Linked DNA regions of Homo sapiens. The protein of the gene in region 7 purifies or fractionates together with the protein of the main gene of each other region. This does not show direct contact. Each region holds a gene or a part of one and is shown on either strand. Other genes may lie near its edges. The genes, in order: DLST, FBXW11, PARS2, SERBP1, SUCLG2, AIFM1 and DLD.

What was found.
Region 1: the proteins of DLD (region 7) and DLST purify together in Homo sapiens (affinity purification with mass spectrometry; 5 studies listed by BioGRID and IntAct, with this or other methods). This does not show direct contact.
Region 2: the proteins of DLD (region 7) and FBXW11 purify together in Homo sapiens (affinity purification with mass spectrometry; 3 studies listed by BioGRID and IntAct, with this or other methods). This does not show direct contact.
Region 3: the proteins of DLD (region 7) and PARS2 purify together in Homo sapiens (affinity purification with mass spectrometry; 3 studies listed by BioGRID and IntAct, with this or other methods). This does not show direct contact.
Region 4: the proteins of DLD (region 7) and SERBP1 purify together in Homo sapiens (affinity purification with mass spectrometry; 2 studies listed by BioGRID). This does not show direct contact.
Region 5: the proteins of DLD (region 7) and SUCLG2 purify together in Homo sapiens (affinity purification with mass spectrometry; 2 studies listed by BioGRID, with this or other methods). This does not show direct contact.
Region 6: the proteins of DLD (region 7) and AIFM1 purify together in Homo sapiens (affinity purification with mass spectrometry; 2 studies listed by BioGRID, with this or other methods). This does not show direct contact.

What each region holds. Positions count from the first base shown.
Region 1 is NC_000014.9:74,884,916-74,888,415, forward strand, and holds part of DLST (dihydrolipoyllysine-residue succinyltransferase component of 2-oxoglutarate dehydrogenase complex, mitochondrial isoform 1 precursor), read left to right. Parts: intron 1-670; coding exon 671-719; intron 720-3,500. UniProt on the Homo sapiens protein: Dihydrolipoamide succinyltransferase (E2) component of the 2-oxoglutarate dehydrogenase complex. The 2-oxoglutarate dehydrogenase complex catalyzes the overall conversion of 2-oxoglutarate to succinyl-CoA and CO(2).
Region 2 is NC_000005.10:171,898,639-171,902,138, forward strand, and holds part of FBXW11 (F-box/WD repeat-containing protein 11), read right to left. Parts: intron 1,463-3,500; coding exon 1,276-1,462; intron 457-1,275; coding exon 366-456; intron 1-365.
Region 3 is NC_000001.11:54,761,724-54,765,711, forward strand, and holds the start of PARS2 (probable proline--tRNA ligase, mitochondrial precursor), read right to left. Parts: upstream 2,801-3,988; 5' UTR 2,738-2,800; intron 1-2,737. UniProt on the Homo sapiens protein: Mitochondrial aminoacyl-tRNA synthetase that catalyzes the specific attachment of the proline amino acid (aa) to the homologous transfer RNA (tRNA), further participating in protein synthesis.
Region 4 is NC_000001.11:67,410,357-67,413,402, forward strand, and holds part of SERBP1 (SERPINE1 mRNA-binding protein 1), read right to left. Parts: intron 2,908-3,046; coding exon 2,851-2,907; 3' UTR 1-2,850. UniProt on the Homo sapiens protein: Ribosome-binding protein that promotes ribosome hibernation, a process during which ribosomes are stabilized in an inactive state and preserved from proteasomal degradation.
Region 5 is NC_000003.12:67,497,613-67,501,112, forward strand, and holds part of SUCLG2 (succinate--CoA ligase [GDP-forming] subunit beta, mitochondrial isoform 2 precursor), read right to left. Parts: intron 684-3,500; coding exon 522-683; intron 1-521. UniProt on the Homo sapiens protein: GTP-specific succinyl-CoA synthetase functions in the citric acid cycle (TCA), coupling the hydrolysis of succinyl-CoA to the synthesis of GTP and thus represents the only step of substrate-level phosphorylation in the TCA.
Region 6 is NC_000023.11:130,128,862-130,131,851, forward strand, and holds the end of AIFM1 (apoptosis-inducing factor 1, mitochondrial isoform AIF precursor), read right to left. Parts: intron 2,939-2,990; coding exon 2,814-2,938; intron 1,306-2,813; coding exon 1,109-1,305; intron 768-1,108; coding exon 696-767; 3' UTR 501-695; downstream 1-500. UniProt on the Homo sapiens protein: Functions both as NADH oxidoreductase and as regulator of apoptosis.
Region 7 is NC_000007.14:107,901,183-107,904,682, reverse strand, and holds part of DLD (dihydrolipoyl dehydrogenase, mitochondrial isoform 1 precursor), read right to left. Parts: intron 2,946-3,500; coding exon 2,866-2,945; intron 2,359-2,865; coding exon 2,290-2,358; intron 1,206-2,289; coding exon 1,136-1,205; intron 1-1,135. UniProt on the Homo sapiens protein: Lipoamide dehydrogenase is a component of the glycine cleavage system as well as an E3 component of three alpha-ketoacid dehydrogenase complexes (pyruvate-, alpha-ketoglutarate-, and branched-chain amino acid-dehydrogenase complex).

The DNA.
Region 1 (3,500 bases), on a different chromosome or scaffold from region 7:
ATGCAGTTAACTATGATAAGGACAGCTGGTGGGCAGAAAGGGTCTCTCACCTTGTTGAGAGTGACCAGGGTGGAAGACTTCAGAAAGGCATGGGAAGTCAATAAACTGAAAGATGGGGACATGATTTTCTCAGCTCTAGGACAAACTGGAGACCCCGAGCCTAAAGTAGCCAAGTCTTTGCTACTAGGATTCAGGTGATAAGATTTCCAACCCAATCTTTTCAAACCCAGACCAAACATCCTCCTTGCTTCTCAAATTGGGTTATGTATAGTCACAGGATAAGCCATCCCATGTCTTTCTCAAGCTTCAGTTGTATTTGAAGACTTGGCGAGTAGAGACATTTTATTATGAAAACATACAGGAATAATGAAAAGTTCTGGCTTTTTAAGGTAGATGAGATTATATAATCACTTTGGGCTGTGCCATCAAATTTTTTCTCTTTCCTCCCCAGCCAAACACATACCCACTCGATCTCACATACCCATTTGCTCTCTGCCACTAAGGCTACTTTGGAAAAGTTTGAGAAGCAGGACTCTATGATAAAGATTATATCCGTTGCCGTTGATCCTGCTCTGTCTCAGGGTTGGGGGTGAGCAGACCTTTTCCATTCCCAGCATGTATCCTTTGTGAGATAAGAGTTGTTGGTTAAGAGTTATTTTGTTTCTTGCAGGGGTCTCCTTATGCCAGGGACCAGGTTACCCTAACAGCAGGAAGGTTGTGTAAGTATCACTGGGGAGTACAGATATGTGGCCACGGGTTATTTATTTAAAGACATAAAGTTCTAAATTTGACCATCTGATTTCTTCACTGGCCTCCAGACCTAGAAATTGAGGTGATTATGTTGAGTCCCTAGACTAACCTCAATGTTCACTTTTCCCATGTGATGTTCCTTGAGCATCAGCTCCGTGTCAGGTTTTGGACTGGGAGTGTGCCCACTCTCCACAGGTGTTTGGATTATAATGAAAGTTAAGTTGGAATCCTCTTTTTATGGGATATAGAAGGGTGCTCCTAGATATTCTGTTTGGATGTAAGTGCAGCTGAAAGGCTCGAGGTTACATTTATTGTGGAGATTGAGAGCATCCTCTCAGTAGCATAGTTACTCATTTTTAAAAACAGTAAAAGCATAAAACTGGTTGAGTCCTGGGACTGACTGACTAGTTTGGAGGGAATGCTGTTATTGCATAATGCAGAGTTTGGAGAAAGGCTACCCATGTGTGTTTCAGATTAACTTCTGCGTATGAATGTTGCTTAAATGCTGCTTTGCATTCCAAGTGTTTTTGTGGTGGTGCTAAGAGAATGCTCTCTAGTAACCTGTTCAGCAGCTGTCAGGCTGCTTACTCTACAGGGAGAATCCTCAAAGTGAAGAGGTCAGCGGATGAGCTTCTTACTTACTCTACATCACAATGAGGGTTTTTGTTGTTGTTGTTTTGAGACAGGATCTTGCTCTGCCACTTTGGCTGGAGTGCGGTAGCCTGATCTTGGCTCACTGCATCCTCAGCCTCCTGGGCTCAAGAGATCCTTTCACCTCAGCCTCCTGAGTAGCTGAGACTACAGGCACATGCCACCATGCCCGGTTGTTTTTTGTATTTTTTGTAGAGATGGGGTTGTTTTGCCATGATACCTGGGCTGGTGTCAAACTCCTGGGCTCAAGCAATCCATCCACTTGCCTTAGCCTCCCAAAGTGGAGGATACAGGCGTGAGCTATGGTGCCTGGCTGATTTTTTAAAATTTGAGTAAATGTTGCACTCAGTACTAGAAATATGAATCCCGGTGTTATTTTGGAGGGCAGTTTGATAGTCATAAGTCTTTGAAGTGTGTGTACCTTTTCTTTTTTTCTTTTTTTCAAGATGGAGTCTTGCTCTGTCACCCAGGCTGGAGTGCAGTGGCGCGATCTCGGCTCACTGCAGCCTCTGCCTCTCGGGTTCCAGCAATTCTCCTGCCTCAGCCTCCTGGGTAGCTGGGATTACAGGCGCACGCTACCACACCTGGCTGATTTTTGTATTAGTAGAGACGGGGTTTCATCTTGTTGGCCAGGCTGGTCTCTGAAACTCCTGACATCAGGTGATCCGCCCGACTCAGCCTCCCAAAGTGCTGGGATTACAAGCATGAGCCACTGCCCGGCCTGTGTGTTCCTTTTCATCTAGCAATTCCATCTCTAGGAATCTATACTGAAGAACTCCTGGTATATTTATCTCAGATTTAATATCTGATAATATAAATATTATCAGATTTATCTTAAAATGGCAAAGAGCAAGGGATTGGCTAAACTATAGCATGTTCACATGTTCACACTATGAAAAGTGGGAAAAAGCAGGTTACAAAATAATTTCATTTTCTACTGTGTGGTATGATCCCATTGTAAGTATTCTTTTTGCTATTTCTAATATTCTGTAGTGAACATCTAGTTATTTAGAGATTCAAAATGTATTACTCATCTGCAATCAAATGAAAATTGGGGCAATCATGACTCTCTACAATAAATACACTAAATATTTGAAAGTAAATAATGAAGAAAAAGTAAACTTTGTGTGGGATCACCCCAATCATGTCACCCTAATCCAGTATCTTTGTGTGTGTTGTGCCTTTTTTGTGAATAAGGTACCCACTTTATTTAATAAATCTTTTATTGTAAAACAATTTTTGGTTTTATGTTTTTACTAATAGTATTATATTTACATGATTAAAAATTCAAAAAGTAAAAAGGGTGTCCATGAGAAGACTTTTTTATCCTTGTCCTCTAGCCCCCCGAATGCCTCTTGGGTAGTGGTGGCCACCACTCCGGGTTCCTGGATGACTTGCAGAGCAGCCTCTGCACTTGCATGTTACCTGTTAGTTCTTGCCTATAGGCATGTACTTTACAAGGTTACAAACTATATGTAGAACAATTTGTATTCTTGTAGTTTTTAAATATCTTCATTTTTTCTTGGTTATACATAGACCTTATAGTTATTTTGACATTATAAAAGTAAAAATACCTAAAGACAACTTAAATCTCTTTTACTTTTCTATTATAAAAATGCTTGTTGTGGAATATTCAGACAATCCTGAAGTGTAAAAAGTGAAAGTCCCCATCCAAATCATTCTCCCAAATTGTGTAAGTGTGCAACACATAACCAGAGATACCATATATGTCTACATCTCTCACCCCTCAGAGGTAACCACTGTTAATGGCTTTGTGCATACAGGGTGAGCTGATTCTCCAGTTTATATTATTTACTGTAAAGGCCATATCAGTAAACGCCTTGGTCTTTGAGGTTCGTTTTGAATGAATCCAGAATGTGTTGATGTGCTGTTTTCTAGCAAGAGAACCGAGTAGGAGATACCATATGGGGTTTGTGTGTGGTTTTTTTGTTTTTGGGTTTTTTTTTTTTTTTTTTGGCATAACACCTTGTTTTACTTCCGAGTTAACCTTGTTAATCTTGCTGCCTTATCTGATCTAAATCTGTTATCTTGAGGGCAGAAATTCCATTATACCTTGCACAATGGCTTGTACCCTGGGC
Region 2 (3,500 bases), on a different chromosome or scaffold from region 7:
CTAGTTCTCTAGAGATGGCTCAAAAATGTAAAACAATGCTTACTTAAAAAAACGGGGCCTTGGATTTTGGAAAATTTATCAGCTTAGAATAAAAAGATGATTTTAGATTAAGGTTTGAATTAACCGGCAGCCTTGCAGAAGCATTTCATGTTTTAGAAAAGTTAGATATTCTTTGCAAAAGACATTATTTTCTCTGCAGAATAGCTGCAGATTATATACAACATGACACATTTACTCCAAAAGCTCAACTTTTTAAAAAAAATTATTAGTTCTACGATTTTAGACCAAAAGAACACTCTAAGGCAACATAAAAAGTTGAGAACAAGAAACAAAGAGCCCATAAAACAGATAAATCATAAAGTTACCTCTATATCCTGGATAATCTTTGGGTATAATGACCTATAAAATGAATTTGGAGGGCCATCTGTGGGTCTGTTTTTAAACAGGTACTGATCCCTGGCAAATAAAAACAAACAGATGTTACATTTTTGCACATAAAAGGGTGAATTTTATCTAAACATGGTGCTGACAAAGATATATCTTTCATGTCTTTTAATTTGCATTGAGTTTTAACAGTTCAAAAGCAGGATTTCTGACAAATTTACATGTTACAGACAAGTTTAGCTCAATTCACAGCTCTCTAACAAAATCCTGATCGTGTTTTCTGAGTACTAATATGTAACAATCTAGCCTTTCATTCCATAGAGTTTAATAAAAAGCGCTAATGTAGCTTTGTGAAAAATCTAACTTAGTACACATCAAACTTCCTCCCGTAAGGAAAATACAGCCCTATATGCACCTCTGTCTGTAGCTCTCTCTCTTTGCTAACTGGGCCATACAGCATACAGCTAGCTATAAAGCTGCATCAGAGTTATGAGTTTTCTCTGAAAAATCCTATCACTGTTATTACTTCCTCAACCAGCAGTAATAACAAACAGCAAAATGGCACTATCTGACTTTCTCATATTTTTGTCATATCTATATTTTGGTAATGGTATCATCAACTAAGCAAAATGTGAAGGAAAAAACATAAATACATAGCTTTGAAACGCCAAATCCCATCAAACTATATAATACAGTTCATAAAGGAAATACACATTTCAGAGGGAGAAATTTTAACAGCTTTAACTTTTTCTTCCAACTTTTGACCACTCATTTTCCCCCCTTTTTAAAAATAGGCCAGCACATTTGCAAGTATAATTGCATTTTTGAGTAATCAAGCTGACTCTATGTCAATAAAATTTTTTCAAGGGAACAAGCAACCCAAGTACTTACCACCCTCTTCTTTCTGAAAGTCCTTTCCATAGGGGATCAGTGCGTACCATTCGTTCAATCAGCTTCTTCCAAAGCATTCCTTCTGAGATCACTCGCTGCCATTCTTTACATACCAGCTCTGCTGCACACAGAGACCTGGCATCCAGGTACGAAAGAATGTTTTCTGCTATGTGATCTAAGCCTTGCTCTACAAAACAGAAAAGGGAATGAAGGAACGGGAAGAGAGATAGAAAGGTACCAGCCATCATTTCCTTAAAGATAAGAGGAATAAAGAAATCCTGAACCAAGTAAAATATTTTAGTCATATCAAAAGTTCTACAGATACTCAAATCCATGAGTACATAAACATATACACTTCTTTTTGGTTCTGATTTTTTACGATAAAACAATTGATAGCAACTCTTCTCTGTGTGTAAAAGCTGACCTTGGACAGTTCTGTTATTTGTCAAATATTAAGATAAGACTTTTCATTTTCTTTTATATAACTCTCACAGCACTCCTATAGGGCAATGACGCCCCAAGTTTGACAGATGAAGCACAGAAAGGTAAAGAACTCAAGATTTTACACTCCCTTGGCTTTACTACTGGAACTCGGATTTCTTGCTTCAAAGTTTGTGTTCATTCCCATCTTACTCACTGTCTCTCATAACAAATCATATCCCCATTAATCCATACCCGGTGTGAATCCCTGGGAGATCAGAAGACAAAAAAGGCAAAACACCGACTCATCTTGAAAAACTTATGAAAAGTTAAATGGCAATCCAAGAATTAAAGTCGATTGTGCTTAAATGTATTTTTGTCAATCTTTTCATCTCCCTTTCGTGAGTATCCATTTTCTGTTCCTAAACAGATGGGACAATCCTCAAAAGCAATAGCCCCATGTCTACAAATCCTAGAATCTTAGAGGTCATTGGCTTCAACCTCCCACGATACAAGGATACTCTCAAAGAAAACCACTTTCAGCCTCTGCCTGACATTCACAATGGGAAGATGATCAACATGGCCACCACTGTTGCCACCTGTAAACTCCCATCCTGTGGCGGTAAGTATGTCTTCTACAGTTGCAAGAAATAAAGCTTCTCCCCAAGCTTATTCTGTGTAGGGACGAGAACACAGAACTTATCATCAGAAAATTCCCATTTCAAGTCCCAGGTTCACCACTTACTAGTTCTATGACATGAAACAAACACTGAAACATCCCTGTGCCTTGAATTTTTGTGCCCTAACATACAAAATGGTAATCACCAGTAACAACTATCCTTTCTTACACTGTCTGTCAGAATCAAATTCAACAGTTTTATGAAAACATTTTATAGACAAGCACTCTACAAGGTTAATATCTGTTCTCTTTTCTCAAAATAATTAGAAGTAGTATAATAGCACTAAACTTGGTTGTTGAAAGGCCAGATGTAGGTAAATTATTAAACTTTCAGAGTCAGTTTCCTCATCTGTATAAGATTACGATAATCTCTACTTGATTCTGAAAATATCAAAATGAGATGATGCATGAAAAATGCTTTACAAACTAAAGTTCCTTCAATTCTAAGAATGACTATTATTATACCATTGGTTATAATTTCCAGGTCCTTCATATACTAAAATTCTCTTACTCTGGACTAGATCAAAGACCCAAGCTATGGTCTAAGAATAAAGACTACACTGGGACCACTGTCCTTTCCTGCATGTCATTTACAGTTAATGTGGTCAAAGGCTGCACTGCCTTCATCTGATAGTCATATCACAGAAGACGCCTAAGATGGCAGTAAGTTAGAATAAAATCCCAGGCCTCTCCCCCAAAAACATCTATTGAAACAATTTCCCCGAATGCTCTATTTGCACAGCTAGTTGGAAAGGTGGGGGGCAGCTTTGTGCGGTTTATATTTATCCTTACTATAATTCACCTTCAAAGCTTTGTCTGACCCATCCATTTCAGTCTCTAGAATTCTGATTTTTGTCACACCCAGAAGAGTGGGTATTCCACACCAGACCTGCATGATGGGCTAAAGTACTAAGGCAAACATGTTAAACCATGTTGGCAAACACGTTAAACGGGTCAGAACCAAGGACAGCACCCATGACACTAGCTATTAGTACCTATTATTATAATATTTCCCTCCAAGCTAGCACTGATGCCGCATCAATATGCCCAGGGCACCCACACTGCGACATCCGGTCTGTAGTCATCTATATGTGCCATTGCCCAGTCCATATCTCTCTATTCTGTC
Region 3 (3,988 bases), on a different chromosome or scaffold from region 7:
TTACCTCTAGCAGCCTCAGGTCCTCCAGCTTGTCCCCTCCAACCTCAAGCAGCCTCATTCATTTCCCCTGTGCACTGTACAAATGTTTAAAGGTGGTCAGGCACTGCCACAGAGCCCTAGTGTGGTGTTGTAGGAACGTACGGGCCATGGAGGCAAGGCACATGTGGATTCACCCCTGGCTCTATAACTTCCTTGTGATCCAACCTTACTTAGGGCAGTGGCTCCAGCCAGAAACTCATCCTTGATTCCTCCTAAAGCAAATGAGTCTGTCTCAAGGTTTCCCTTAAGTCCACCCCCTCCTTTCTGGCCCTTACTGCCTCAACATTAGGTTAGCCCCTCAATACCACTTGCTACATTACAGTTACCCAGTGGTTCTGAAATCTAATTGAGCATCAGAATCGCTGGAGGGCTTGTTTTTTTTTTTTTTTTTTTAGAGACAGAGTTCACTCTATCACCCAGGCTGGAGTGCAGTGGTGCAATGTCAGATCACTGCAACCTCCGTACCCCCAGCCTCAAGAGATTCTCTTGCCTCAGCCTCCTGAGTAGCTGGAATTACAGGCATGTGCCACCATGCCCAACTATTTTTCATATTTTTAGTACAGACAGAGTTTCACCATGTTGGCCAGGCTGGTCTCAAACTCCTTGACCTCAAGTGATCAGCCCGCCACGGCCTCCCAAAGTGCTGGGATTACAGGCGTGAGCCACCATGCCCGGTTGGGTTTGTTAAAACAGTGATTGCAGAGGCCCATCTCCAGAGCTTCTCATTTAGTAAGTTTGGGGTGTGGGCAGAGAACCTGTATTTCTAACAAGTTCCCAGGTGACACAGATGCTGCTGGTCCAGGGACCCCACTGGGAGAACCACTGCAGGGGTCTAGCTGTGTACCACCAATGACTAATGTCTTAAACTCCATGAAGACGACAGCTATGTCTATTTTATTCCAAGTTTTATCTGCAGCATTCAGCACAGTGCCTGGACACAGTGGACACTCAATAACATGTTCCTTTTTTTCTTTCTTAAAAAATAGAGATGGAGTCTTGCTATGTTGCCCAGGCTGGTCTTGAACTCCTGGCCTCATGCGATCCACCTGCCTCAGCTTCCCAAATTGCTGGGATTATAGGTGTGAGCCACTGTGCCCAGGCTCAATACATGTTCTATCAATGAATGAATGGAGTAATTCTTGAACCCTGTCAGTCCAGTCTCCGTATTAGTCTCCAGCTAAAAAGATAGCTGACCCAATCACTCCCCTGTTTACAATCCATTAACGGCTGGCTCTCATAATTTTCTCAGAATGGCACCAAAGCTCTTCACATTTTGATCCCAACACACCTCTTCCAGCTTCTTATCCTAGCATTCCCCAAGTTGCTCATTATTCTTGAAACAGACTGACCTCCCCCCAACCCCCAGCAATTCCAACTGGAATTCAAGGTTCACTTACTCCAAGAAACTTTCTCCAACCCCTCTAAACAGAGAAAGTCACCTCCTCTGTGCTCCACTGCACACACCTCTTTTTAGTATACTGTATTAGAATCATCTCCAAAAATATTTTTGAGGAACTATTGTGTGCCAGGCATTGGAAGCGAATGGTGTTTCACATACAATTTTTTTTCTTTCTGGGGGTGTGTACGGGGGCCAGGAGGGGAGGTCAGTGTCGATGTTTAACATTCTATTCCTTGATGAAATTACAAGTTTATGAAGTTTTATACATCTTTAAATTTCAGAGTCTCGCATAATGCCTACTATTTAGGCTATTATTATCTGTTGATCAAATATGTTAATAAATTAAGAGCAAAGCAAACAGGTGCAATGATATAATTATCTGGATAATTTAAACGAGAGCTTTAAACTCTTCTCCTCCACGTTTAGCATGTCTGTCCTCAGACCCCTCAGCTTATACAAACAGGAGAATAAGTAGAATTATCTCAGTTTTTCAGGAGCAATACAGTAACTAACGTATGCAACACTTCAGGCTCTGGCAAACAGCCTCTGAGACATTCAGTCGATTTTTTTGAGTACCTACTCTGTCGGGACACTGTCAGCCCTTCCAGCCCAGGCCTTTTTAAAGATTCTTTGACTCACCATTGCCCCCCAATCTAATCAGAAAAGTTGTACCTAAAGCGTTTACAACCGTACCTGATACATAATATTAAGTCTCACAAAGTGCTATTATTATTATTATTATGCCCAACTCAGAAAAGGGAGGCTCTGAAATATAAAGTCACTTGTGTCAAGCCACACAGCAAATAAGCGCAGGGTCGGGCCTGGAAGGCAAGGTCCCCGCCTCCAAATCCTACAGTTTCCATCACGAACTGTGCTACATTAAACAGCAATGGAACCCTAGGCCTAGTTCTAAGAACAAGCTCGGCCTTCACTCGCTCGGTGACCCTGGACCACTCACTTCGCCCCGGACCTCCGTTTTCTCCAACATAAAACGGGAAGGCTGGCTCAGGCAGCAGGTGGTCCCAGGGCCTTTCCAGAGCTGGCACTTCGAGAACTGTGTGACTCTCACGACGACCGAGGGAGAGACCAGGAAGTGCTGCCCTCATTTTACAACGGAGGACACGGAGACCAGGAGTATCGAAAAGTTTATGGGATTCTCGCCCGCCCCAACTCAAGGACGGGATGCAAGTGGGAAAACGGACACCAGGGTCCTAGGTCTCCGCGCCCACACCGCGTGCTCGCTTCATTTCGCTGCCCGCGCCCGTCCCTCAGGTCTGGGAGTCACCCACGTTCACCTACCGCAATCCCAGCCCACGCCTCCCGCAAGACCACCGCCGTGCCGGGCCAGCGCGCTTGCGCCTCGAGCAAGCCCGCTCCTAAGCCCCGCCTCCTGCCCTTTTCGCCAATTGCAAAGCCGCGCTCACGGAGGCGGGGCCGAGGGCAGGGGCGCTCTGGCCCCGCCCCACGCTAGGCGCGCGTGAGAGGTTTTCCGGAAGTGTAGCCAAAGAGCGAGTACCCGGCTTTCCCCAAGATCGTTGATTGGCCAGGGCAGCCTTGAGTAAATCACCGTTCCGGAAGTACTTTCTAGGAACTTGGGAGGTATAACTCTATGATGACTTGAGGGTGCTCTTCCTGCCCCTGCCAGGCCCCGCCCACTCCCCCAATAGGAGAACCACTGGCGACAGTGTAACCATGACGACACACTGGGCAGTGTAGTTTCTAATCTATCCTATGATTTTTACGGGCTTTCCATTTAAATAGTATAAAATTGTGAAACAGTTTGAGAAAGACGCCTTTATTACAGTGCCCAAGACAGTCTTTAAGACACAGATTCAAACTTCCATTCACAAAATATTTTTTGAGCTGCTACCACGTAGAAGCCACTGCTGTAGACACTGGGGACAGTGAAGTGAACCAAACAGACAAAATTAACTGCGTTCAGTGTAGCTTGTGTTCTAGAGAGGACACAGTCAATAAACCAATAGAGCGAAATTTAAGCAGGGCAGGGAATGGGAGCAAAGAACTCAGTAACCAAGATAAACAGTATTTTAATACAATTGTTTTTTTAAAAAAACAAAATGCAAAAAATCCATGGCAAACAAAATATCAAAATTTAAAAGAATCTGTCAGTCAGATGGTGATAAGGGCTATAAAGAAAAAATTAGAGAAGGAGAATGGAGTGGGGGAGTTAAGTGTTTGCAATTTTTTTCTTTGTTTTTTTGAGACGGAGTTTTGCTCTTGTCGCCCAGGCTGGAGTACAATGGCGCGTTCTCGGCTCACTGCAACCTCCTTCTCCCGGGTTTAAGCAATTCTTCTGCCTCAACCTCCCGAGTAGCTGGGATTACAGGTGCCCACCACGTCCGACTACTTTTTGTATTTTTAGTAGAGATGGGGTTTCACCATATTGGCTAGGCTAGTCTTGAACTCCTGACCTCAGGTGGTGATACACCCACCTCGGCCTCCCAAACTGTTGGGATTATAGGTGTGAGCCACCGCGCCCAGCCAAGTGTTTGCAATTTAAAATAGGAGGATCAGGAAAAACCTCATCAA
Region 4 (3,046 bases), on a different chromosome or scaffold from region 7:
AAATTAGAATGAATACTTAATATCCTCCTTTTAAATCCATACCAAAAACAAGCCCCAAATATATTTACAACCCTGGAAATGATGTGTACTACTTTTATTTAAAAAAATAAGAGTAAAGGAACTAACTAGATGTATATGGTGCCAATTTTTAAAAGTCTTGCTTAACTCCACAGGTCTCAAAATAGCTAATAAAGAAACCATGTCTCCAATCATTTCAATACAAGCTGTAAAAATGCCTTAAAAATCTCAGGTCTGGCATTACTTCCATTTAAACGCATCAAGATAAAAGTTCACTGAAACATCAGCTGCCACCATTACTTTAGGAATCTTTATCTGTTTAGGGATTTTTCCCCTAGACTATTATAGCCAGTTTGTCAATCAAAAGTAGCATTCAGTATGCTTAACTTTCATTATCAAAAAAGTGATCTGCTAAGAAGTGACAATCAGATTAAATCCAAGAAGTCCTTGGATTTTGTATTTTACAAGAATTCAACTTTCCCAATTAAGTCATTAGTCATTAAGATAAGTACCCTTCCCAAATGTGATTCAACAGCCTGGTTTTTAGCAAATAAAAACCCCATATAAAATTCAATTTAAAAATTATAAACACACAGGGGTGTGCACACAGGTCAGAAACCAGGAAACACATGACAATAAACATGATCCTATTTGATTGTTTTTATGACTTTTAAGAAGTGAGCATGAAAATAAATCTTTATTTTCAGTTATTACCCACCAATAAGAGAAAGTTAGGTTCACAGTTTTAGCTCTTGACACAAAGTGAACTAGGAGGCAAATTTATATCCATCAGATACAACTAATGCACCAACTTTTTAAGTTCAGGCTATCTTGAAAGCTTGCAACATACCAGATATTGCTATGTTGTCTCTCACGACAGCAATGGATGACACTGAGAAGTTGTGTTTTGAGTAGCAGGTGTTTTCTATAGTATGTTGCTGGAAATCAAGAGGTTTATAAAACATGGTACATGTTTGGAAATGAGTTAGATACTTGAAAAGTCTAAACACACTGATTTAGGAGTGCGTATGTTGCTGTCTCAATGAACAATGGGTCAATAGTTCATATGGACTAAATTAATCTCTGGGTAGCACGTATGTGTGTAAATATAAAATTATATTAGACATTAGCACCAGTGCAGAACATGCTCAGCATCATAAGATCCAAAACACCAGCACAAGTTTATCCATCATTAAAAACAATTACCTCCTTCCTAAAATGTCAGAATAGTAGGTAACTGAGATTAATAAATCTTATCCAAAAAGTAACTCTTATAACATAAAAGTTTCTTTTAGAAGTATATGTGAGAACCAATCAGCTAAATAGAAATGTTTAAGATTGAAGATGTCCAATATTTTTAAAACTGGACATTACCATATACAGGTAGAACATTTCTAAAAATGACGTGACAAACAATTCTTAAAAATTTTTTAAAAATTCCTTCACTGTTTATCAATAAATGTGGCAGAATAAAAGACAATCCTAGAAAACTTTTTTAATTCATCATTCTATGTGTGTTTTAATAAGTGGTGATGCTCCCATTATAGGAATCCATTATTTACCTAATTTTCTAATGGAGGAAGAGAGAAGAGATAATTACCACTTTCTGTGGAATACTCAACTTACAACCAAATAATAGCAATCTAGGAAATTTAGAAACAGTAAAGGTTTTTGGTTTATATTTCATGTATAGTGCTGCTGTTCCAACCTTACAAAGTAAAGCTGTCTGCTTCCCAAATTCCAAAAATTAAAATACTCCCCCACCTCACCCTACCAACCAGCGCCCTTTGGTTTTTGTTTTAGAACAAGGAAGGGTTAAATGGTGGCTGATTATGGATGTACCATTTTGATTTTGGGACCTTTCACACACAGAAATCATACCAAATGGCCAGACACTTATTTTACAGAACAGTTTAAATATTACACATTGGCCAAATCAACTTATTCCACCCACCCTGGTGAAGGGGGAGAAAAAACCCATACCTATAAAACTACTTCACTTGACACGATGTGCCTACCAACAATAAGTAGTTTAAACAACTTTCACCAATTAAGATGTCTAGTTTAGATTTTAAAATGGGAAACTCAAGCATTTAAAAAGTAAATATAGCTGAAAATGTAAATCAGTTATAATTTGAACCTAATGAGCCATGCAAGGAGCAAGGGTTAATAAACCAAATGTGCTTTGAATTTGTTCAAGTACTGATATTTCTGTATATAAAGATTTAGCATATATATATAACAGCTATCATGAGAAGTGAAAAAAGATTTTTCCCCAAAAATGAAAATATTAAAACTAAGTTAAAATACATATAGTTAGTATTCCACACAGCATAAAATTTGACAAATCAAAGTTTAACATGTCCCAGTTGACCATGTGTGAATATGCAAAGCAGGTATTAAAACCAGTATGTCCAATATTTAAAACCAGTTTGTAATTGGGGGAACTTCTAAATCCTTAATTAAAAAACACAAATGAAGTGAAAGCTTTAAACTGGTACACACTGTTCACACCTATATTTCAAGTTTGGAAATGCATATTTGCAAGCAGCAATACAAAAGTATTCATGAAGAATGCATAATCTCTGAAAATTATGAAAACATCCCTGCTACCAATACATTTCTAAATACAAAACTGACTACCATATTTGTTACTTCTGTGTAGCGGGAGAAGTTCATTTTTAAAACAGATAAAATTCAGTCTTTAGGTGTGAATGGTATGAATGACAGTCTTTTTTTTTTTAATTTCTTAGTCGTTTGGAATCCTTAAGCATGCAAAAGCTTTGAACAGAAGGGTTCACAAAGGAACCAGGGTTGTCTTATGGCATCCAGTTAAGCCAGAGCTGGGAATGCCTCTGGGTCATCCACATCAGGAGCAGAAGCACTTGACTGAAAAAGAAAAACCAAAATTAACCACAGTTCTCAGTTCTTCAAAATTACATTGTTAGCTAGTGTCTACATTAAGACAGAACTCTAAAAAAATCTTACTGTTGGCCAGGCACAGTGGCTCACACCTGTAATCCCAGCG
Region 5 (3,500 bases), on a different chromosome or scaffold from region 7:
GATAAAGGAATTTTGTTTTAAACCTAAATTTCAGAAGAGTTCTGCATATTAATACTGAGTTGAGCAGCAAAGGTTCTAATTTTTTACTAAGCAAAGTTTAACTGAGATGTTTTAAGTCAATATTTCTCAGTTGGGGTGATTTTTGCATACCACAGCCATTTGGAACTGTCTGAAGACATTTATTTTAATTTATTGATTTACATGGGTTTATTTGTCTTCACAAGTGGGGGTTGTTAGTAGTATCTAGAGGTTAGGATGCTAAACATCTTATGATGTACAGGACAGTAAAGAATTATCCCACCCAAACTCCCAATAGTGCCAGAGTTGAGAAATTCTGCTTTACACCAGTGACCATTAATCAAAACAACTTTGAGAAGAAACTTGGATACTTTCCTAAGACTTTTCAGCTACAAAAAAACTTATGTGCTTACTTCTTCTTGGTAAGTGACATTTCAGAAATCAAGGTTTCCTAAATTCTATAAGAATCCACAAAGCATTCTTTTGATATAACTGCTTCTTACCAAAGCAGGCAATGTTCCCATCTAGTCCTATGTATTTTAGATCATATTTGGCAGCTTCATTTTCAATGGGCTCATTCTCTGATTTGTCGTCCATAGCAAATATGTCTTTTTGTCGGAATTCTGCGTTGTCATCAAAGTTTATCTTGGCATCAAAACAGACAACTAAATAAAGAAGAAAACAATCATACTTGAATATCTCTTGAGGATCTATAAATTAAGTTCTTCAGGCTGGTAGGCACAAGCGAAGGGAAAGTTAAGTACTGTCATTTTTTTTCACATGTTACAGGCAGGAGAGGCTGCTTTGGCTTTCTTGACCTTTAAATTTTAGGGTTTGGTCCCTGTTGTCAAGGGACTTACGTTCTAGTAAAGAACATAGTAATTTCTACCTGTTGTTCTCATTTCAATAGAATAACCCCAAAAGTTGCCATCAACCATTAAAAGTTACAGACTGGCACAGCTTCATAGATACAGCTTTGATTCATTATTTTTATTATATATTTTTAGTATTTAACCACTAATTATCACCTTTCTCTTCTATGTAAAGAGAGACTAGACAATATTATTAATTATTTTGTCCCCTATTGTCCTTTTCTTGATATGGTAAAGTGAAATTTTTATTGAATCAGTATCCTGTCTAGTATTTCCAAAAGATTTAGTGGAAAGAATGCCAGACTAGAATCGCTCGATTTTTATTTGATCCTTAACTAACTCTGTAACATTTATTAAAAATAAAAATTGTATACACTTGAGTCTTGAACAACATGGGTTTGAACTGTGAGGGTCCACTTATAGCTGGATTTTTATTCTCAAGATGTAAAGCCCCAGAGGGTCGACTTTTCACATACATGGGTTCTGCAAGGCCAACTGCAGGAATTGTGCAATATGAACGAAGTTTGGTATATCTGAGATTCCTGGAACCGATTCCCTGCATATATTGAGGGACAACTGTGTATTTAAAGCATACAACATCATGTTTTGATATACATATAACACAGTGAAATAATTAAACACAGTGAAATGATTACTACACTGAAGCAAATTAACACATCCATCTTCTCATATAGTTTTTGGTTTTTCTTTTTGGTGTGGGAGAGCACTTAAAATATATACTTTTAGCAATTTCCAGCATACATTACTAACTCTGTAACCTTGATAAAATAACCTAGTTCTTCTCTGGGCCTTGGTTTTTTAATTGGAAAAAATGGCAATAACAATCCTTAAAACAAGGGCCATGCCCTTGATTCGTGCAGGACCATCTTATGGTGCTTCAGATTCAAGTTATAAGACACGAAAAGACCAAGACTGGTCAGTCACAAAGCCAGGATGCCAGGCATTATTAGCACAATTGTCTCTAGTTTCTGGAGCTGGTGGAAATCTCCTGGACCCAGCAAAACTCATTCCATAATAGGAGACAGACTACAGGGCACTTTCCTTGATTTACAGATCTCCTATACATACAATCAGGGAGAGACTGCAGTGGAGAGGGTGGCATTATTGGTATCTGGGTATCTGACCCCTTTTATTATCTCTCTTAGTGTAGAAATTAGTGTTCTGTGATGCCATGTCATCATAATGTTTGTTTGTTTGTTTATTTATTTATTTATTTATTTATTTCGGAGACAGAGTCTCACTCTGCTGCCCAGGCTGGAGTGCAGTGGCGCAATCTCGGCTCACTATAACCTCCACCTCCCAGGTTCAAGCGATTCTCCTGCCTCAGTCTCCCAAGCAGCTGGGACTACAGGCATGTGCCACCATGCCCAGGTAATTTTTTGTATTTTTAGTACAGATGGGGTTTCACCGTGTTAGCCAGGATGGTCTCGATCTCCTGACCTTGTGATCTGCCCACCTCAGCCTCCCAAAGTGCTGGGATTACAGGTGTGAGCCACTGCACCTGGCCAATGTTCTTTTACTTAACTTGGGATATTGATAGCCAGGAATCTTTGAACAATAATTTACAGATACTACCTATTCTCCTCCAGCATTGCTGACAGGCACCTGACTCTTGAAAGGGAAACAGCCACAGAACATTTCTCACTCACTGAAAAGCAGTGGCTATAATCTCCTAATTATACTTGCTTCTTATGAAAATAAAACATGGCTGTATATGGCATCTTGGCGTTAGAGACCCCAGGTAGAGGGTTTTCTCCAAGGGTTTCCCTACCACAATATTCAAGCACTTTGATACAAATCTGTGTAGACCAGCATATTAACATCTAAGAATACTTGTTATAAGTATATATATAGACCGCACATGACTTAAAGTAGCACTGAGCGACAAGAGAGAATCTTATATGGAAGTTAATGTCTGCTTAAATCCTTAGTCTTGCCCCAAAATGCCCAACCACTTTGTCCACACATTGTGAATGGTTGGAGTGAATGAGTAATTACTTTCCAAAATATTGAAAGCTTATTGACAGAATCCTACAATTACCAAACGAATTGGCCAATGTTCTCTGCTTGCTACAGGGGAATTTTCTCAGCAGTTAATGACTGGTATAATAATCAATAAAAAAGCAACTTCGTACATGGCTTTCCACTAGGTTTATAAATGCATTCTAATTAATTTATTAGTAATTTTAGCTCCTCCATTACTCATTGGCAAGACTACTTATAACTGACACCTTCAAAATGAATGGGCTAAGGTTATCAAATTGACTTCCTAAGGGAAGAGTTTCAAATAAAGGAATTCTTGGTTGAGATCAATAAACAAGTAAATCAAAATAGTTTCAAGCTGACCTTTGCTCCTTACAAAGACTACAGTTACAAGCTGCTTCAGAGAGAGAATAATTAATGGGTATGTATTCAAAGTTCAAAAGGCAATCCCAACTAAATGCCTGCAAAGCTAGATTTTCAGAGGATGTTTTTCTGTGGTATGACGTTCTCTCCAGGGAACAATCTTGACAGAACTTTGCAGTTAACCCAGAGCTTCAAGATGGTGACTATGGGATAAAAGGGGTGTATATCTACAACGGTCCTGTG
Region 6 (2,990 bases), on a different chromosome or scaffold from region 7:
CCCTGCAGGACCCAATCCAGTTCTGGGACAGGAGTTGTTCCAGGTAAACAAAGTCTATTCCATACATTTATTTGTTCACTCATTCGACAATGATCTATGAAGCACTTACTATGAAGCAGACCCTGTGCTAAGCTCTGGAGATAAAACCATGAGCAAGGCCTTAACATCAGGGCTTCTGCTTCCAGGAAGTCATGGGCTAGCAGGGAGACACATACACAAGGATGAGGCTTGGAAGGCTGGGAAAGTCTTCAGAGATAGTGAACTTCCTGAGAGGAGAGGAGGGGAGTCAAGTGTTGTGGGCCGAGGCCACAGCAGGTGTGTGCAAAGAGGTCTGGAGGGGTGAGGGAAGTTCGGAAATGAAAGGAGTTTTGCGTCTGGAGTAGGGCATGAATACATGGCTGAGAAAAATCCTGTGCTTGGTCGGTGCTGCAATTTGCTTGCTTTCTAATATGCGTGGCTTTCCACCTTCACCCACCTGCCCCCTTGACAAGAGAACAGAATTTAATTTAGAAGAATCAGAATTTATTTCACTATGTGAACATTAAGAATTTACCTACATAGTTGAAAATATTCACAAAGGACTTGATCATTCACACTCATACACAGAGAAAGTCTGCTGAATAAAAAAATGCTCCTTTACCCATTCGACCTCCTCTCAGGGGCTGCAGTGGGTTTGCCAATTCCACTGTGGGGCTTCAGTCTTCATGAATGTTGAATAGTTTGGCTACTTCATTGAGATCTTCATGCTGCTCACCGTCCTTAATGATCTGAGGGAGAGAGAGTAACAATAGGTCCCTAACTTACTCCATTGCGTTCAGGCCATGCCCACACAATGGGGCTACCTGGGGCAGTCCCCATATCACACTGGGAGGGAGTTGTGGGAACAGTTCTCTACTAACCCCAAACAAGCAGCCTGCCAACTCCCAGGTCACCCAGCCAAGTCCCAAGTGAAAAAGAATGTTCCTGAGCCAAGGCTATACCTTTGTTCTGCTCAGGCACAATTTGACCTGGCCGGGGGACAATGCATCTCAGGGCACCCGATGAAGTTACAGGAATGTTTCTAAGCCGTACTTCCCATCTTCCTCTAAGAGTTATGACAGGCACCTACCTTCCTTGCTATTGGCATTCGGTTAAAGATGTTCCATAGCACAATCCCCACGACCACTTTGTCCCTGAGGTAGAAGATGACACCTTTGCCGTAGTCCTCCCCCTGGACGGGAGCCTGTGGAACTGCCGGGGTGCTGGGAGGAATAGTAATTTCTGAGGCCTCGGACTCTGTCTCACTCTCTGATCGGATACCAGTTCCTGTGGCCAGCCCCCAAAACAAATAAACATGGAAGCAAAATCAAAACTTCAGTTATTATGAGCTTGGGAAATTCTAGAAGCCAACAGTCTTTCGAGGCCTGCTTCAAGCTACTTCTAGAGGATTTATTTCTCTATGCCCCCTCAGTAAACCCTGGCCTTCACCAGCCCCTCTCCAGTGACAAAGCCAAGGAAAGGTCTTCCTTGCCAGCTCCTGGGCACAGGGTCAGTCTGACCCTAAACTTCCCTCCCTTATTATCTCATTTTAAATTCATGCTATGAATATTTCCTGGTATCTGGATTTCTTCAAACTGCAGAAGGCTGGTTCTTGTCCTCTAAGAAATAATTCTAGAGCTGCATGGTCCAAATACAGTAGCCACTAGCCACAGCCATGTAAATGAACATCATTTCAAACTGAGTAAGATGTAAAATTCAGTTCCTTATCTGTACTCACCATGTTTCATGAGCTCAAAAGCCACATGTGGCTGGTGGCTAACGTACTGGACAGAGCAGAGATGGAACATTTCCATCGCAGCAGAAAGTTCTATTGGACAGTGCTATTAGACAGGTACTTTAGACAAAGCAGAAGGCACTTCCATTTGGAAAAACCATAGTGGAGGCATTTCTTCCTAGAGAAAGAGGGGAAGGGAAGGGTGGCATAGGAAGGGGGCACCTTGCTGAGAACCACCAGCCTCCAAATAATACTGTCCAGTCGACAAAGCAGTGACATGAATCCACTTACTAGGTTACTAGGAGAGATCAGAATTAAGGAATATGGAATACATTAGAATTACACAGGAAAAGGACCTACATATCCATATAATGTCTTGCTTTCTCCTTCTTAAACAGCACCTTGCCCTTGAGACACCTCTGGCAAAAGGATGCAGAAGTTAAATAACTTGAGCTAAGGTCAAGGAATAAGGTCTCGGAGTTAATGAAAGAGACATGTGTGGGAGAGAAGTCCATTCCAAGAGAGGTGCCTCCCATCTAAAGAAAACCTGGCACTAAGATCTGCCAAATGGAATGGGAGGCAGCTAAATAACTACTCAGCCCAGTTCCTCCCTGCGCAGGACCCATGGAGGATAGCCAGTCTTAAGCTAAGCCTATCAGGCCGTGTTCTTGAGATTCGCCTGAAGCAAAATAATAAAAATGACAACTGAAAGAAAGAAAAATAAAAACGCAATCTAAAAAGTTCAGGTTTTCTTGTTTTCTTCCTTAGAAAGGTCTTCCCAGAGACACACAAAACAGCAGTGTCATTGAGCTAGCCACTGTCCACTGTCTAGGACAGATACCCACAATATTTGAATCTATGCTTTGACCAGGATACCTGATTTTGCCAAATCTCAGACCACTAAAGAGTGAGGACTTGGGGTTTGGTTTCTTTTAAAGCACAACATGAAGAGAGGCTTTCACTGACAAGCCCCTCTGGCCAATACAGAAACCCCTTGTTCAGGAGAATCTGGACCACTGCTTCTCAACACTCTCCAAGAGGAGTGCTAGGACTTTCTTACCTGACTGCTCTGTGGCAGATTTGGGGTTGTCTTGTGCAGTTGCTTTTGCAAAAACACCAACTGTGGGCAAACTACTGTCCACAAGACCAATAGCTTCATAGCCAACATCGGGGCCCAAATCACTCCTAAGAAGAGAGAAGAGGGTGTTCTGTCAAGGGACTGTAAGGAATGACACGG
Region 7 (3,500 bases):
ACTTTACGATGGTTATAAGTCTGGAAGATATGTAAGTAGAAATGACAAAGTAAAACATCATCTGAAATTTTAAATAAAGGAAAATGCTAGATTTCATGAAACAAAACAAATAAAAAATACACGTTTAAAAATTTCAAATACAGAAGCTTAACATTAAAAAGTTTAATCACCTAGGTTTTAATCACTCATTCAACTCAGAAGAGAACTCTGAAGCAACAGTATTAGATAAAAATGCTCAACTCAATTAAACTTTAGAGGTAAGAAGGGTATCTTAGAAAGTACCTCATATAACCAACACATATATTAGAGATAAGGAAAAAGAGACTCTGAGAGATTTCTGATTTACCCAAGGTCACAGAGCTAGGATGTAAAAGCCTTGCCTACAATGCAGGTCTCCTGACTACCCCTAGCTCTTCTTTCTTTACGTCATTCCATTTTTCAACTAGTATGATATTCTATTTGCTTTAGTGCATATACATCATCTCTATACCCAATGGATTGCCTTAAGTAGCCCCTCAAACCTACCTCTGTAAAGAAACAAATGAAGGAAAAGTAACAACCCAAGGTTATGACTAGGTCCTGCCCAGAAGAGACTACCTTTCTGGAAGTATCTAACAACAACAATAATTGGAGACAAAAGATTAAAACAGCTCAAAAAGTATGTCAGGAGACAAGATACGTTATGAAATGTCCTCTTCCTTTTCCGCTATGCCTCACTCTTTCTCTCCTCTAATTTTTCTACTATCAACAGCTTAAGTGGGCCTTCCTTCCTTCCTCTATCTCCCCATAGTACTCAGGAATCCAGCCTTCTCAGTGATTTCCAGATTTTAGGAAATGAAAACTGACTCTTCAAAAACACATAAAGGCAAACCTCAGGAAAAAGTTGGCAAAGGAACAGAAGATATAATGGTAGAAATCTGGATTTGCAGGGTTAGGCTTGGTTATACTTGGCTGGGAGAAATCTGGATTTAGGCCTTCTTTTTTAAGTAAATCTCTCCACATTTTTTAGATTATTTATTTTACTCTTCCTTCACTAAACATCTATTATGCGTACGTTAGACACATTTAAGTCTTTAGACAGAAGAGCCAAGTCAAGCAGTCTGGTAATATCATTAAGCATGAAAAGTATACTTACTTTCAATTCCTCTAGATGCAAAATCTTTTCCATGGGCCATATGGTAATAATGAGAGTTGTTCAATAAAGCCTAAAGGAAATTAAAAAGATCAAATTATCAAATATTCATAAACAGACTTCAAATAATCAAAAAGCACTTATGAAATGATAGTCTTTCTTTTCATTTTTTGAGACGGAGTTTCGTTCTTATTGCCCAAGCTGGAGTGCAATGGCGCCATCTCAGCTCACCGCAACCTCCGCCTCCCGGGCTCAAGCAATTGTCCCTGGGATTACAGGCATGCATCACCACGCCTGGCTAATTTTGTATTTTTAGTAGAGATGGGGTTTCTCCATGTTGGTCAGGCTGGTCCCAAACTCCCAGCCTCAGGTGATCCACCCGCCTCGGCCTCCCAAAGTGCTGGGATTACAGACGTGAGCCACCGCGCCCGGCCGATATTCTCTTTCAAATGTTCTCATCACAAAAATGATAAGTACTGTGGTAATGAATATGTTAATTAACTTGACTAAATTATTCCACATTATAGTCATAAATCATAACACCACTTTGTATGCCATAAATATATACAATTGTAATTTGTCAATTTACAATAAAAATTTAAAAAGAAGTTAAAAAAAAGACATGGCATTCTCTACATGGAATAGTATATGGCACTACACCAATTCAGTTTCTCTTATTAATCAAAGACAAACAATAATGATGTGAAAAACATTCAACAAACAAGAATGAAAAAGACATTTTTACTTTCTTTAAAAGTAAAGGCATAAGTACACACTTCAGGGTGGCAGGTGAAAAAGGCAGTCATGTTTACATACAAAAAGGACCTAAAAGAACAATTTACTATCTATTATCTGTTACACTGGTGAAGGAAAGATAAAGAGAAAAAACTAGAACATCAGAGTCTGTTTGAATGGAAAGCTAGGCATTCTGAGACAAGGAAGTTATTTCAGGAATGTGTGGCAGACTAGTGACAGCACTCTTTAAGTTTTACAAAAGAGAAGTGTGTTTTTTATCATTCTTTTTTTTCTCTGTGTGAAATGTGCCACAACTTGGATTGTTTTTTAACAAGTGTATTTGTCTAATCTAGTCTCAATCCATCCTTCTAGTTGGTTGCTAGCCAAAAACAATCTCTGTGCTGTACAAAACACATGCTCACCTTAGAAGGAATACAACCAACATTCAAGCATGTTCCACCAAGTGTTTCATTTTTCTCAATGCAGACTGTCTACAACCAAAGAAAACATTATTTAACTGCACATAACCTCAATGTTTCAGATCACTAAAATTCCAAATATATGTCTTAATTCTTCTACAAAACAAGCTATTCGGGCTATGTTTTCACAGACTAAAATATATAGTCCTTTATAATTTATCATTTGAATAATAATAAACACTTTTGGGCTGACCCAAAAGTGAATTATTCTAAAAGATATTTTTGTGTGCTTAACATTACCAAATATATGCTTTTAGTTCTATCACTGTATCTTCCAAAGTGTGATTAGATGCCAAAATGAAAAGTACTGGGAAGAGAAGAAAACTAATAGATTTCACTTTCCATTCCAAGAGAATACTACAACCAAATGAACCTAATCTTTATTAGTCTCAGGCTTACAAGTAATTTATAGAGTTAAGGAAGTATTTACCATGTTTTTGCCTGCAAAGTACTTTATAAATATGATCAACCCTTCCCAAATTAAAATAAATCAATACTTAGTTTGAGTTCAAACCTTACCTTGAAGCCTAACTGGGCAGCTTTAATAGCAGCAACATATCCTCCAGGACCAGAACCTATAACTGTTACATCAGCATCAACTACGATAAAAGCAAATTGATATAAAATAGTAAATTGCTTAATATTTACCAAAAAGAGCTCTTTGGAAGAGCAAACAAATAACCCGATACTTAAACCTCTTACAGTACAAATCAGCATTTTCTACATAGTTTCTGCACTATTTTATTACTACTACTTGATGCTCTTTGATGCTACTGAAAAATGGCATAAATACTCAAATTTCATTTTCTATTATTTTCTATTCATTACAACATACAGAAACACAACTGAGTTCTGTAACACTCACATTGTATTCACTGACCTTCCTAAATTCTATTGATTTAATAACTGACGGAATTTAGTGATACTGGAAGACAAGTATGTATGAAGCAAAGAGCCTGAGCTTTGGAATCTGACATTCTGGGCTTCATATCTCAGCACGGCCAATGAGTAGTTGTATGAACTTGACCCAATGACTTAACCTTTCTGTAATATGGGGATGAAAACACTGCCTTCAATGATTGATGTTAGAATTAAATAAGATAATTTTATATAATGCTTTAGTATTTCCAATAAATTTAAGACCTATTACCTTT